Homo sapiens: one gene and its partners. The protein of the gene in region 1 interacts with the protein of each later gene in a pairwise test. Each region holds a gene or a part of one and is shown in the gene's direction. Other genes may lie near its edges. The genes, in order: MDK, HCK and TMED8.

Evidence for each region.
Region 2: the proteins of MDK (region 1) and HCK interact in binary tests that used the Homo sapiens proteins (3 or more experiments, as listed by UniProt).
Region 3: the proteins of MDK (region 1) and TMED8 interact in binary tests that used the Homo sapiens proteins (3 or more experiments, as listed by UniProt).

Annotation. Positions count from the first base shown.
Region 1 is NC_000011.10:46,379,411-46,383,154, forward strand, and holds the start of MDK (midkine isoform a precursor), read left to right. Parts: upstream 1-2,258; 5' UTR 2,259-2,348; exon of another isoform or gene 2,349-2,646; 5' UTR 2,647-2,647; coding exon 2,648-2,723; intron 2,724-2,883; coding exon 2,884-3,051; intron 3,052-3,176; coding exon 3,177-3,338; intron 3,339-3,744. Other genes in the region: DGKZ (diacylglycerol kinase zeta), read left to right, coding at 59-158, 421-537. UniProt on the Homo sapiens protein: Secreted protein that functions as a cytokine and growth factor and mediates its signal through cell-surface proteoglycan and non-proteoglycan receptors. Binds cell-surface proteoglycan receptors via their chondroitin sulfate (CS) groups.
Region 2 is NC_000020.11:32,069,179-32,072,922, forward strand, and holds part of HCK (tyrosine-protein kinase HCK), read left to right. Parts: intron 1-509; exon of another isoform or gene 510-573; intron 574-2,483; coding exon 2,484-2,604; intron 2,605-3,744. UniProt on the Homo sapiens protein: Non-receptor tyrosine-protein kinase found in hematopoietic cells that transmits signals from cell surface receptors and plays an important role in the regulation of innate immune responses, including neutrophil, monocyte, macrophage and mast cell functions, phagocytosis, cell survival and proliferation, cell adhesion and migration.
Region 3 is NC_000014.9:77,375,427-77,379,170, reverse strand, and holds the start of TMED8 (protein TMED8), read left to right. Parts: upstream 1-2,076; 5' UTR 2,077-2,117; coding exon 2,118-2,235; intron 2,236-3,744. Other genes in the region: SAMD15 (sterile alpha motif domain-containing protein 15), read right to left, coding at 64-1,752.

The DNA of each region.
Region 1 (3,744 bases):
GACAGATGGGTGGATCAGGGGACGGGATGGGGTACACAGCCAGCCCCTGCTCCCCCAGCGGGGAGACCTGTTTGCACCAAGCAGCGGCCCTGGGCCAGCGCACCATCTGCCACTACATCGTGGAGGCCGGGGCCTCGCTCATGAAGACAGACCAGCAGGTGAGCAGACGGCAGGCAGGGAGCCCACGAGGGCACCAACCAAACCTTTCCCAAGGTCCTAGGCGGGAGCTGGGGCTGGGGGCTGTCCCTGGGAAGACACAGTCCAGACCCTGGGAAACCTGAGCCAGCAGGGGAGGAGCTGGTGGGCAGAGAGGCCTCCCTCCCTGACCAGGCCACAGGGAGGTAGAGCCCCTGCCTCTCAGCCTGCTAGGGGTTAGGCCTGCCTCTGGCCCCTGCTGATCGCAGCTCCGCCCTCCTCCAGGGCGACACTCCCCGGCAGCGGGCTGAGAAGGCTCAGGACACCGAGCTGGCCGCCTACCTGGAGAACCGGCAGCACTACCAGATGATCCAGCGGGAGGACCAGGAGACGGCTGTGTAGCGGGCCGCCCACGGGCAGCAGGAGGGACAATGCGGCCAGGGGACGAGCGCCTTCCTTGCCCACCTCACTGCCACATTCCAGTGGGACGGCCACGGGGGGACCTAGGCCCCAGGGAAAGAGCCCCATGCCGCCCCCTAAGGAGCCGCCCAGACCTAGGGCTGGACTCAGGAGCTGGGGGGGCCTCACCTGTTCCCCTGAGGACCCCGCCGGACCCGGAGGCTCACAGGGAACAAGACACGGCTGGGTTGGATATGCCTTTGCCGGGGTTCTGGGGCAGGGCGCTCCCTGGCCGCAGCAGATGCCCTCCCAGGAGTGGAGGGGCTGGAGAGGGGGAGGCCTTCGGGAAGAGGCTTCCTGGGCCCCCTGGTCTTCGGCCGGGTCCCCAGCCCCCGCTCCTGCCCCACCCCACCTCCTCCGGGCTTCCTCCCGGAAACTCAGCGCCTGCTGCACTTGCCTGCCCTGCCTTGCTTGGCACCCGCTCCGGCGACCCTCCCCGCTCCCCTGTCATTTCATCGCGGACTGTGCGGCCTGGGGGTGGGGGGCGGGACTCTCACGGTGACATGTTTACAGCTGGGTGTGACTCAGTAAAGTGGATTTTTTTTTCTTTTCTGCTTTTCTTCTTTTGCGGGGGAGGTCTAACAAGCAGCGGGGGCTGCGGGGTTGTCCTCGGGGTGGGGGACTGGACGCTGTCGACAGCACCTTCCTGGGGCCCCGGCTCCCGTTTGGTGGTTGGTCCCAGGGCCTGCCCGGTTCCTGACCTCTGCCCGGCGGCCGCGCTCGTCGGGGCCGGGGGCGGGGCCGATCCCTCCGGCTTCCCGCTTCCCGCGGAGAACAACAATGAAAGTGAAAGAGGGGTGGGGCGGGGGCGAGCCCGGGTTCTGTGGCCCATTTGCCCTGTGGCCTTGAGCAAGCCCCTCCCCCAGGCCTCGGGGGCTCTCCCGGTTTGGGGGAACCGGGCGAGGCAATGCCACAGGCCCAGGGTTAGAGGGGGTGGGCACTTGCAGCTGCCGATGTGGCTGGATCTGGAACTTCTCAGACGGCTCCTGTCAGCGCCAAGTTTCACCAAATCCAGGCCTGCGGGCTCCTCCCCCAGGACCCCCACTCGCAGTCCCTCAAGCCTGTGCTCCCGGAAAGGCACTGGGCGACCGCACCCGTGGCTTTCTCTGGGCGACCGGGTCCCAGACTCCCCCCAGCACAGCAGAGCGCTTCCCTGCCCACCCGCGGAAACCGCCCCAGGTGGGCCGCGCCCCCTCCCCAGCAGCCAGCAGGGCGCCAGGGCTGAGCCGGCCGTGGAGGGGAGCGGGTCCCGCGGGTTATACAGGCGCCGGGGCTCCGCGGCAGGCAAGAGAAGCTGAGGCCTGAGAACGGCCCGGGCCTTGGCGTACGGCAGGGGACGACCTGGGATGGGGGCAGCGGGCGGCGGCGCAGGGAGTGGGCCGGGGGCCGGTGTGCGCGGGCGGGACGGGGCCCGGGGTCGGGAGACCACCGCTCGGAAGATGGGGCCGGGAGAGGCCGCCGTCGCAGCGCAGAGGGCACCGGCGGGGAGACGCGAGGACGCGGGGCCGGGAACACGGACGCCGGAGTAGAAGCGCGGGGGGCGCGGGCTGGAGCGGGGGCGGGGACGCCGGGGTCGGGGGCGGTGCGGGTTTGAGGGGAGGGGGCGGGGCGGGTCCTTCCCTGGGGGGGTGGGGAGAGGGGGCGGGGGCCCATGTGACCGGCTCAGACCGGTTCTGGAGACAAAAGGGGCCGCGGCGGCCGGAGCGGGACGGGCCCGGCGCGGGAGGGAGCGAAGCAGCGCGGGCAGCGAGCGAGTGAGCGCGCGGCGGCCCCTGGTCCGCCCGGCCGCGGCCGATCTAGGGGCTGGGGGCTGGAGGCGGGGGTGGGGGTCTGAGCTGCGTCCTGGGCTCGAGGCGTCCCCCGGGGAGTCGCCTCTTAGCGGTGCGTCCGGGCTAGCGGCGAGGGGCCGCCCCAAGTCTTCCCACCGCCGCCACCTTAGCAGCCCGACTTGGGGCCTGGAAAGTGGAGCACGCGGAGGTGGGAGGGCCCTGCACGCGGCCCCCGGTGGGGAAGGGGACGGGCCAGGGATTCAGACTCGGGCTCTCCCCTCAGGATGCAGCACCGAGGCTTCCTCCTCCTCACCCTCCTCGCCCTGCTGGCGCTCACCTCCGCGGTCGCCAAAAAGAAAGGTGATGGGGGATGATCGAAGGAGGGCTGGGGACGGGCAGGCGAGGCCCCTCCACTTCTGGGCTGGGCCGCCTGGGTTCCTAGCCTGGAACCCCAGGAAGGCGGCTCCCGAGGGAGTCTCCCCGTGCCCCAGTCCTGAACTCTGTTCCTCGCGCGTTGTAGATAAGGTGAAGAAGGGCGGCCCGGGGAGCGAGTGCGCTGAGTGGGCCTGGGGGCCCTGCACCCCCAGCAGCAAGGATTGCGGCGTGGGTTTCCGCGAGGGCACCTGCGGGGCCCAGACCCAGCGCATCCGGTGCAGGGTGCCCTGCAACTGGAAGAAGGAGTTTGGAGGTGAGGCGGGGCGCAGTCAGAGGGCAGGAGACGGGGGGCACAGCCTCGCCGAAGCCTGGGCGGACCCTTGGCGGAGGGCGGGGCCGCGGGCCGCGCAGCGCTGACCTGGGCCGCTCTCTCGCCAGCCGACTGCAAGTACAAGTTTGAGAACTGGGGTGCGTGTGATGGGGGCACAGGCACCAAAGTCCGCCAAGGCACCCTGAAGAAGGCGCGCTACAATGCTCAGTGCCAGGAGACCATCCGCGTCACCAAGCCCTGCACCCCCAAGACCAAAGCAAAGGCCAAAGGTCAGCGAAAGGAGAAGGGGGTGGGGCTGTCGCGGGGGGCTGCCCCCCCCCCCCCCCGCCTGTGAGGGGACAATTCCAAGTTAAACCTTAAGTTTTGAGTCCTGGCCAGTGGCTTCCTGACATCGCCTCACTTGGCTTCCCTGCCTGGAAAAGTCTGAAGATGGGCACTACAAGAGAGGCCGCAGGTGATGCTGGGGACATAAATCCTCCCTGGCCCAAATAGGGACCAACTCAAACTACTCCATTGGAGCATCTGGCTTAGGACCCAGGGAGAGTGTCCTGGAACGGCTTGCCTTTGTCAGCTCTCCAGCCACGGGCAGCATTTGGTCAGCTCTGCCCTTTCTAGTGTTGGGAGGAGGTCAAGGCCCACCCTGGGCCTCTCAGCTCACTCGTGACTCAGCCCAGC
Region 2 (3,744 bases), on another chromosome or scaffold:
GCTCAGTGCTCACCACCACCCTATGAGGTAGAACCCTTGCCACCCTTTCTCAGAGATGGCCTTGGATTGTGAATGAACACAGGTCTTCTGAGACCCCTCCCTCGGGACCCTGTGGCCATCTTGAATATGTACATTGATCACGTAAGTGAAGCATACAAGGTGCTCAACGCGCATGGATTGGAAATCACAAGACTCACAGCTGCAGATCAGTGGGTGCCCAGAGAGGTAGAGTGAGCTGCCCTACCTCACACAGTGCTGCTCTTCCCAGAACATCTTTATGCTGACCAAAACACACGAAATGTGATATAATTTTATGTCATATATGTCACACAAGATGCCCGTTTAATTTCCCAGAACTGTAATACACATTTATCTCAAAGAGAGATGCTGGTTTCAGTTTTAAATGCATGCAAGTACATTATAAATCTGTGCTTAATTATGATAATTTTTCAAATTAATGATCCAGCACTCCAAGAGTCTGAATGTGTTCCTTATTTTATTTCCAAAAGACAAACAAAGCAAAACCGCTCAAGTCTTGAGGTGGCAAATCTTTCCCAGTTCCCACCAGAAGAGGTAAATCCTTGTAAATAAAAGGAATCTTTTTTCATTTTTAAAAGTAACTCATCTAAGCCTAGGAGTTTGGGGTTTTTTTCCTTAAACCACAAATACATGTTTATTTTAACAAGATAAGTATAACTGAGTTCTAACTGCTTTAGAAGAAAATGGCAATTGTGCAGAGATGAGAAAAGCAAGCACTTCCTTATGTGGTTGTCACAGCCTGCCTTCTCAGCAAATGTGTGTGCACATTTTGAGAAAAGAAATGAAACATTTCTTCCACTTTTACAATTATGTTTTGACTCTACTTGGAGTAAATGTGTTTTGTTTAAGCATCCTTAAATTAATTCAATACAGCAGCAAAGTCTGCAAGCTCTACCTCCAAAATGTCCCCCAAACCTGTCCAATGCTTACCTCCTCTCTGCCCCCACACTACCCTGGGCCACCATCATCTCATACCTGAACAATTTTGGCAGATTTCTCACAGGGTTCCCTCCCCTGCTCCCCACTGTCCACGCCTCACTCAGCCACCGGTGGGATTATTTAAAGTGCAAATTGAATCCCATCATTCTCCTGCCAGAAACTTTCCATCATCCTTAGAATAAAATCCAAAGTCCTTACTGGCCCTACAGGATATGGTGGCCTTGTCACAACCACCCTCTTCCCTGCCCATGAGCTTCAGCTACACTCTCCTGCTTTCAGTGCCTCCAACTTCTCTCTAAGCACATGCCAGCCTCAGGGCCTTTGCATTTGCTGTTCCCTCTGCCTGGAACACTCTTCCCTCAGAGTGTCCCCTCACTGGCTCCTTTGTGTCATTTAGACCGCAGGTTCTGTATCCCTTTCTCTGACAGGCCTTCCCCAAATGCCCTGCCTAAAAGAGCCAGACCTGTTGTTCCCCACAGCATCCTCTCTTATTGTCCTCACACTTTTCATTAACTCAATTTGCCCTGTTATTTATTTGTTGGCCTGTTTATTGTCTCTGTCTCCCATTCGGCTGCAGTTGAGGTCCTGAGGGCGTGAACTTGCTTCTCTTCTTCACAGTTTAGAAAAGTGCCCAGTAAATCTTGGCTGTGTAAATGGATGAATGAATTACCAAACAACTCAGAGAGAGACAGAGAGAAAGAGAGGAGGAAGAGGAAGAGGAAGAAGACGAAGAAAGAGGAGGAGGAGGGAGGACAGAGGAGGGGGAAGGAGGAGGAGGGGAAGGAGGAGGAGGGGGAAGGAAGAGGAGGGGGAGCAGGAAGGAAGGGAGGGAGGGAGGGAGGGAAGGAGTTATAAGCAATTTATAAATTGATACCAGTAATACGGTGCCTTGACAAACTAGATTGTTTGAGCCATGTTATGTGACCTCATCTTGTTATTTAATATAAAAATGGCAATTTATCATCTGATAATACTGCAGTTTTTCTGTAGTGTTTGCTCTGAGCCTGACACTGCACTGAGTATTTCCCCACTGTAGGTCATATTATTGTCCCCATTTTGCCGATGAAGACCTGAGAGGTGGGTAGGGGCAGGAAAGTGGTCAGTGAGGTGCTGGTGGGGTGGAGGGGCCAAGGATCAGCTGAGGCTTTCTGACCTGAGAGCTGGCAGTGCCCACCCAACAGCTCTACCTGTTACATTTCTGTTATCCTCATGCCATCCTCTGAATAAACATCCATCACGCTGGTCCTTGGTACCCACGACAATGACAGCTTGTCAGCCCTGGGCCAGTGCTGTGGCACGTGGACATGGGGAAGCCCAGAGGTGGCAAGGATGGAGTGGGTTCCATGTGGGGAGGATAAGGGTGCATGGAGCTGGCAGGGGAGTTAAGACCGGGAAGGCCAGTGGGAGCCAGCCCGGGGGCAGGGGACCTGGAATGCCAGCATCAGAAGACTTCCCCGCATGAGGCTCTTGGTAACTGGGGCTCACCTCCCTTCTGTCTGCTGCAGGATGGGGTGCATGAAGTCCAAGTTCCTCCAGGTCGGAGGCAATACATTCTCAAAAACTGAAACCAGCGCCAGCCCACACTGTCCTGTGTACGTGCCGGATCCCACATCCACCATCAAGCCGGTGAGTAGGGGAGGTCCCAGTTTCCCTGGGGGCTGACGGATGCTGCCCCAACATTGCCCTAACAGCCTCCTGTCTTCCCAAGGTTGGGCAGGGTGAGCTTGGGGTGAAAGGGAGCTGACTGGCCACCAACAGTGTCCTGACTCGACTCTCCGGGACGCAGCGCCAGCCAGCATGCATAGGGGCAAAGAAGTCATCTCTCTTTCCTGCAGCCCAGGCTTGGCCCCTCAGCCTGAGCTCCACCAAACAGGTGTGAGTGAGCATCTCAGGCCTCCGGCCTGGGCAGAAGCAAAAGCAGTGCTGAGAAACGAGTGAACAGTAATGATAGCAGCTGAAGTGACAATGTAATGGTAGTATCAGCAGCATTGCAAAAATACAGTAACAATTGTCATACTAATAGTACCAACCATAATTGCGTGAGTATAAGACCAAGAGTAGCAGCAGGAACAACAGCAAGAGTTGTAAAAAGAGAAGCAGTCATGCTAGGAGAGGTATTTACCAACTTCTTTTATGTTTATACAAAGCTGACTATGAACCCAGCACTGTTGTAAGCCTTTACGGTTATTAACACCCTAATCCTCACAATAATCCTATTGTGTGACACACAAATACATTCTTCTTGAAAATAAAAACACAGGCCAGGTGCAGTGGCTCACACTTGTACTCCCAGCATTTTGGGAGGCTGAGGCAGGAGGATTACTTGAGCCCAGGAGTTCGAACTGCATGAGCTATGATCACGCCACTGCACTCCAGCCTGGGCAATACAGGGAGACCCTGTCTCTTTAAAAAAAAAAAAAAAAAAAAAAAAAAAGAGCTGCTTAGAATGCCATAGTTTAGGTGTCACTTCCCCCTTGCATGGACACTTAGATTGTTTCACATACATAACAGAGCCTTTATTTATGGAATATAAATCACTGGTGGGCCTGTGATTTCTCCAAACTTAGTCGGAAAACACTGATCTGGACCGACCCCTTCACTGTGTGTTGAGGGGAGGGGTCAAGCAGCATCCCCCGGTACATCCAAGACCGAAGGCCGAGGTCACAGCTCAAGAAACCTGGATCCTGGCTGGGCACAGTGGCTCACTCCTGTAATCCCAGCACTTTGGGAGGTCAGGAGTTCTAGACCAGCCGGGCCAACATGGTG
Region 3 (3,744 bases), on another chromosome or scaffold:
TAGAAGGAATAAGAAGTAGACGGATGACAGCATGTGATTTCAAAACATCTTATTTTTGTATACCTTGTATTGAGGGAAGCCTAGCTGGCTAATCCACTCTGCAACTTCCTCTGGATCCCAATTAAGATGCTCAAATTGTAACTCAGTCCCTTTTTCTGGCTGGGTTTCGTCATCTTCAGAGACCCGTTCCTTCAACTCTTGGGACAAATCTACAACTTCCTTTTCATGAACGAACTCACTTAATTCTGTCTGAGACTCTGAGGGATCTGAGTATGAGCATTCTTCACTGACATTAAGCAATTTTTGGAGTGGTTGCAAAAACTCATAATGTGTACCAATTGATTCTTCACTTTCTCTGAGAGATCCTAATGCGTAATATTCTTTTCTAAATTTGTCACTTAGTGACAACTTTCCTCTTTTAGGCTCACGGTGCTCTAGCTCATCGTTTCCTACAGAATACTTAGACTTTATTGGTTCTGGCCTGTCTTCCTTGGAAAATTCTACATGTGTCTCCCTTGGTTTGGTTTCATCTGGTAACTCTAGAATTTTCTCAGTTGGCTTTGTTTGTGTTTTCTCTTCAACTTGTGGGTTGATCTCCTGTGGTAGCACTGGACCAGTCTCCTCTGGTGGCTGTGGATTTTTTTTCTCATTTGACTTTCTTATCTCTTCTGGACTTTCTGGTTTCATCATTTCTGATTGTTCTAGAATTGTTTCCTCATTTGTTTTTCTTGATTCTTCCTCAGGAAACTCTAATTTGATCTCTTCTAGTGGCTCAGGAACGTTCTCATCAGTAGACTTTCTTGGCTTGTGGTCTGGAAAGTCTGGTTTAGTCCGCTCAGGTAGTTCTGTCCCTTTCTCCTCAGTTGCCTTTCTTTGCATCTCCTCTGGAACCTCTGGTTGAGTCTCTTCTGGAGGCTCTAGACCTGCCTCCTCACTAGACTTTCTTGGTTCCTTCTCCAGAAATTCCAGTCTAGCCTGCTCGGGTGGCTCTGTCCTTTTCTTCTCAGTTGACTCTCTTTGTGTCTCCTCTGGAGTCTCTGGTTTGGTCATCTTTGGTGGCTGAAGATCTGTCTCTTCAAGTGATTCTCCTAGTTTCTCACTTGGAAAATCTTGTTTGGTCTGCTCTGGAGGCTCTAGACCTGTCTCTTCATGTTGCACTCTAAGTGATTCCTCTGGAACCCCCGGTTCAGTCTCCTCCTCTAGTAATTCTAAATTTCTCTCTCTGACTGTGGCCCCCGAAACCTCAGACATGGTTTCCGTTGGTGGCACTGGATCTGGATCTGTTTCCATAGCTGACTCTAGGAACACATCCTCTGTAACATTTGGTTTAGCCTCCTCTGGTGGCTCTAGGTCTGACTCTTTATGCGTTTCATCCATAGGGGCCTCCAAATCTTTGAAAAACTCTCCCATCTCTCTGGATGTTTCCGACTTTACCTCTTGGTGTATCCCTGGTTCAGTTTCGCTTGGTACGTCTCTCTTGGACTCCTTGGCAATTCCTTCCTGGGACGTCCCGCCAGGTTTCAGCTGCACGTTCTTAGCACTGTCTGGCTCCCCCTCTTTGAAGTCCTCTTCCTCGGTCTCTGGCTGTGGCTCTTGGTAAATCTCTGCTGGTAGCTTCGAGTCTGCCTTTGCCATGGTGTCTGGTTCGGCATTTTCATACAATTTATGAAGTCCAGGCAGTTCAGGCCTCTCAGGCTCCAGCTCTCCATCTTCATCTGGGCCGGAATCATAATCCTCCGGGACTTCAGCCATTTGCAGCTTAGCAGACGCGCCGCGGCTTCCTAGCAACCCCAACTTCCGATAGCGTCTCTATGGATACCACGATTTCCGGCAGTGTCTTCCTGACTCTTCCCCAGGTTTTGTTTGTTCTTTCAAGCCCTGACTTTAAAAATCGTCTGTCACAAGCACGCAGTAACCCTCCCTGCGGCCTCATCGCCAGCCTCAGCGGGCCAGAGCTCCTGTGGCCGCCCCTGGGTCAGCTAGCTTTTCAAGCGGCCGCCGCGCCGCTTCTTCCGGCCTGCAGGCTGCGCTCGGCTGTGCTCGGCGCTCGCTCGGCCTTCGGCTGTTTCCGGAGCCACTCGCGGCTGGCAGCGGAGAGCTCCGTGCGCGGGCTGCAGATGTCTGACCTGCAGGCGGCTGAGGGGCCGGGCTCCTGGAGCCCCACAGCCCGCCCAGGGTCGGCTGGCGGCGTCGGGGACTGCCAGGGAGTGGAGGGGAGCCAGGCGGCCGCCTCAGGTACGCAAGGCCGGGGCGCTGGCGGGTGGGTGCCGCCCGGCCTCAGGGCCCCGCACCACGGCGCGAGCCTCCGCCGCGCTCTGTCCTGGGCTTCCCCGCGGAGCGGACCCACCTCGGCAGCCCCTTCGCGCGCGGGGCCCCTTCCCCGCCGCTGCCACCACCCGGGCCCTGGGCTCGAGGTTATTTTCTACTCACTCCTGTTTCGAAATGCCTTGATTCCTGCCCCGCTTCCTTTCTGAGATCTGCCCAAATGGTAGTGACAGGGTGGCTCTGCCCCTGGCGCCTCTTCAGCTTCAGTTTCAGCTTCAGCCGGGGTTCGGGTCCCACCTCCGTCTGCTAATCACATCTAGACTGCCGACCCGAACCCTACTGGCCTCGCCGCCCCCTGCTTCTGGCTCCCCACCCTATCCCCATCTCAGTCCCCTGCCCCAGCCTTACCACGCGCCTCTCGGCCCCCACCCGGGTTGGCAGCCTTGCCTTCCTCTGCCAGAAGCCCACTGCGCCCTAGCCTTCCTGCACATAGGCCCCCTGGCCTTGCTGCCATCCTCTCCATCGCTTAGAGTGGGAAAAATGAAAAGCAGAGTTGAAATAGGTAGTGTCTGGGGTCTTTTGCTTGAACACAGTAGCCAAAGCAAGAGCAGGAATTAAAAATTTGGCCTACCTCCCTCATTCTCAAGACCCTCATCCTCTTCTTGTCCAGGACGACGTCTCCATTTCTACTAACGCGAGTTCCTCCGTGTGTATTATTTCAGTGTCCAAAGACAAAAGAGTCCATCCATCACACTTTCTTCTTTCAGCCTCCTGAACACCACACACGATGCAACTGAAAGGATGCTCTTTTGAAATACGAAAGGGTAGAGGGGAGAGAACTTGTCTTATTTAAGTAGCAAATATAAATTAATTTTCTAGGTCTGAAATTAAAATAGACACCATAAAGTATAATGGTTGAGGCACTACTGTGGAGCCAGGGTGCCTGGATTGGAGTCTGAAACGTCAGTTTCCTCATCTGTAAAATGTGATTACTAAAAATATCTGCCTCATAGGATTATTGTGAGGATTACTTGAGCTGCTTTGTCTAAGGCATTTGGGGTATAGTCCATGGTACACACTATACTCGTCTCAACCATTGTGACAGTAAGGTCTCTTTTTGTTCAGTTGAACTTCCTGTGCCGCCAGAGGTGTTCTTGGATGTATGGCTTCCAACATGGTGCCTTTTTCTGTCTTCTACTCTGATCCCAAGTATCTTCCCTCTCATAATGCTGCCTTATTCAAACACACACACAACTCACCCAGCTCTTTCCCATGATTTTATATTCTTTTACTTTAAAACACCTGACAAATTTTGCCTTTTTTTCTTACGAACTCTGCTTTGTATTAAATTAAAAATCGTTGGCATATATTTAACATAGCAGTAGAAATTCTAAGCATAATGTCTAAAAGACTAAGCAAGTAAACACAGAAAGGTAAGTCTTATAACACTTGTCCCTTGCATGCGCCAGTATTTACAAA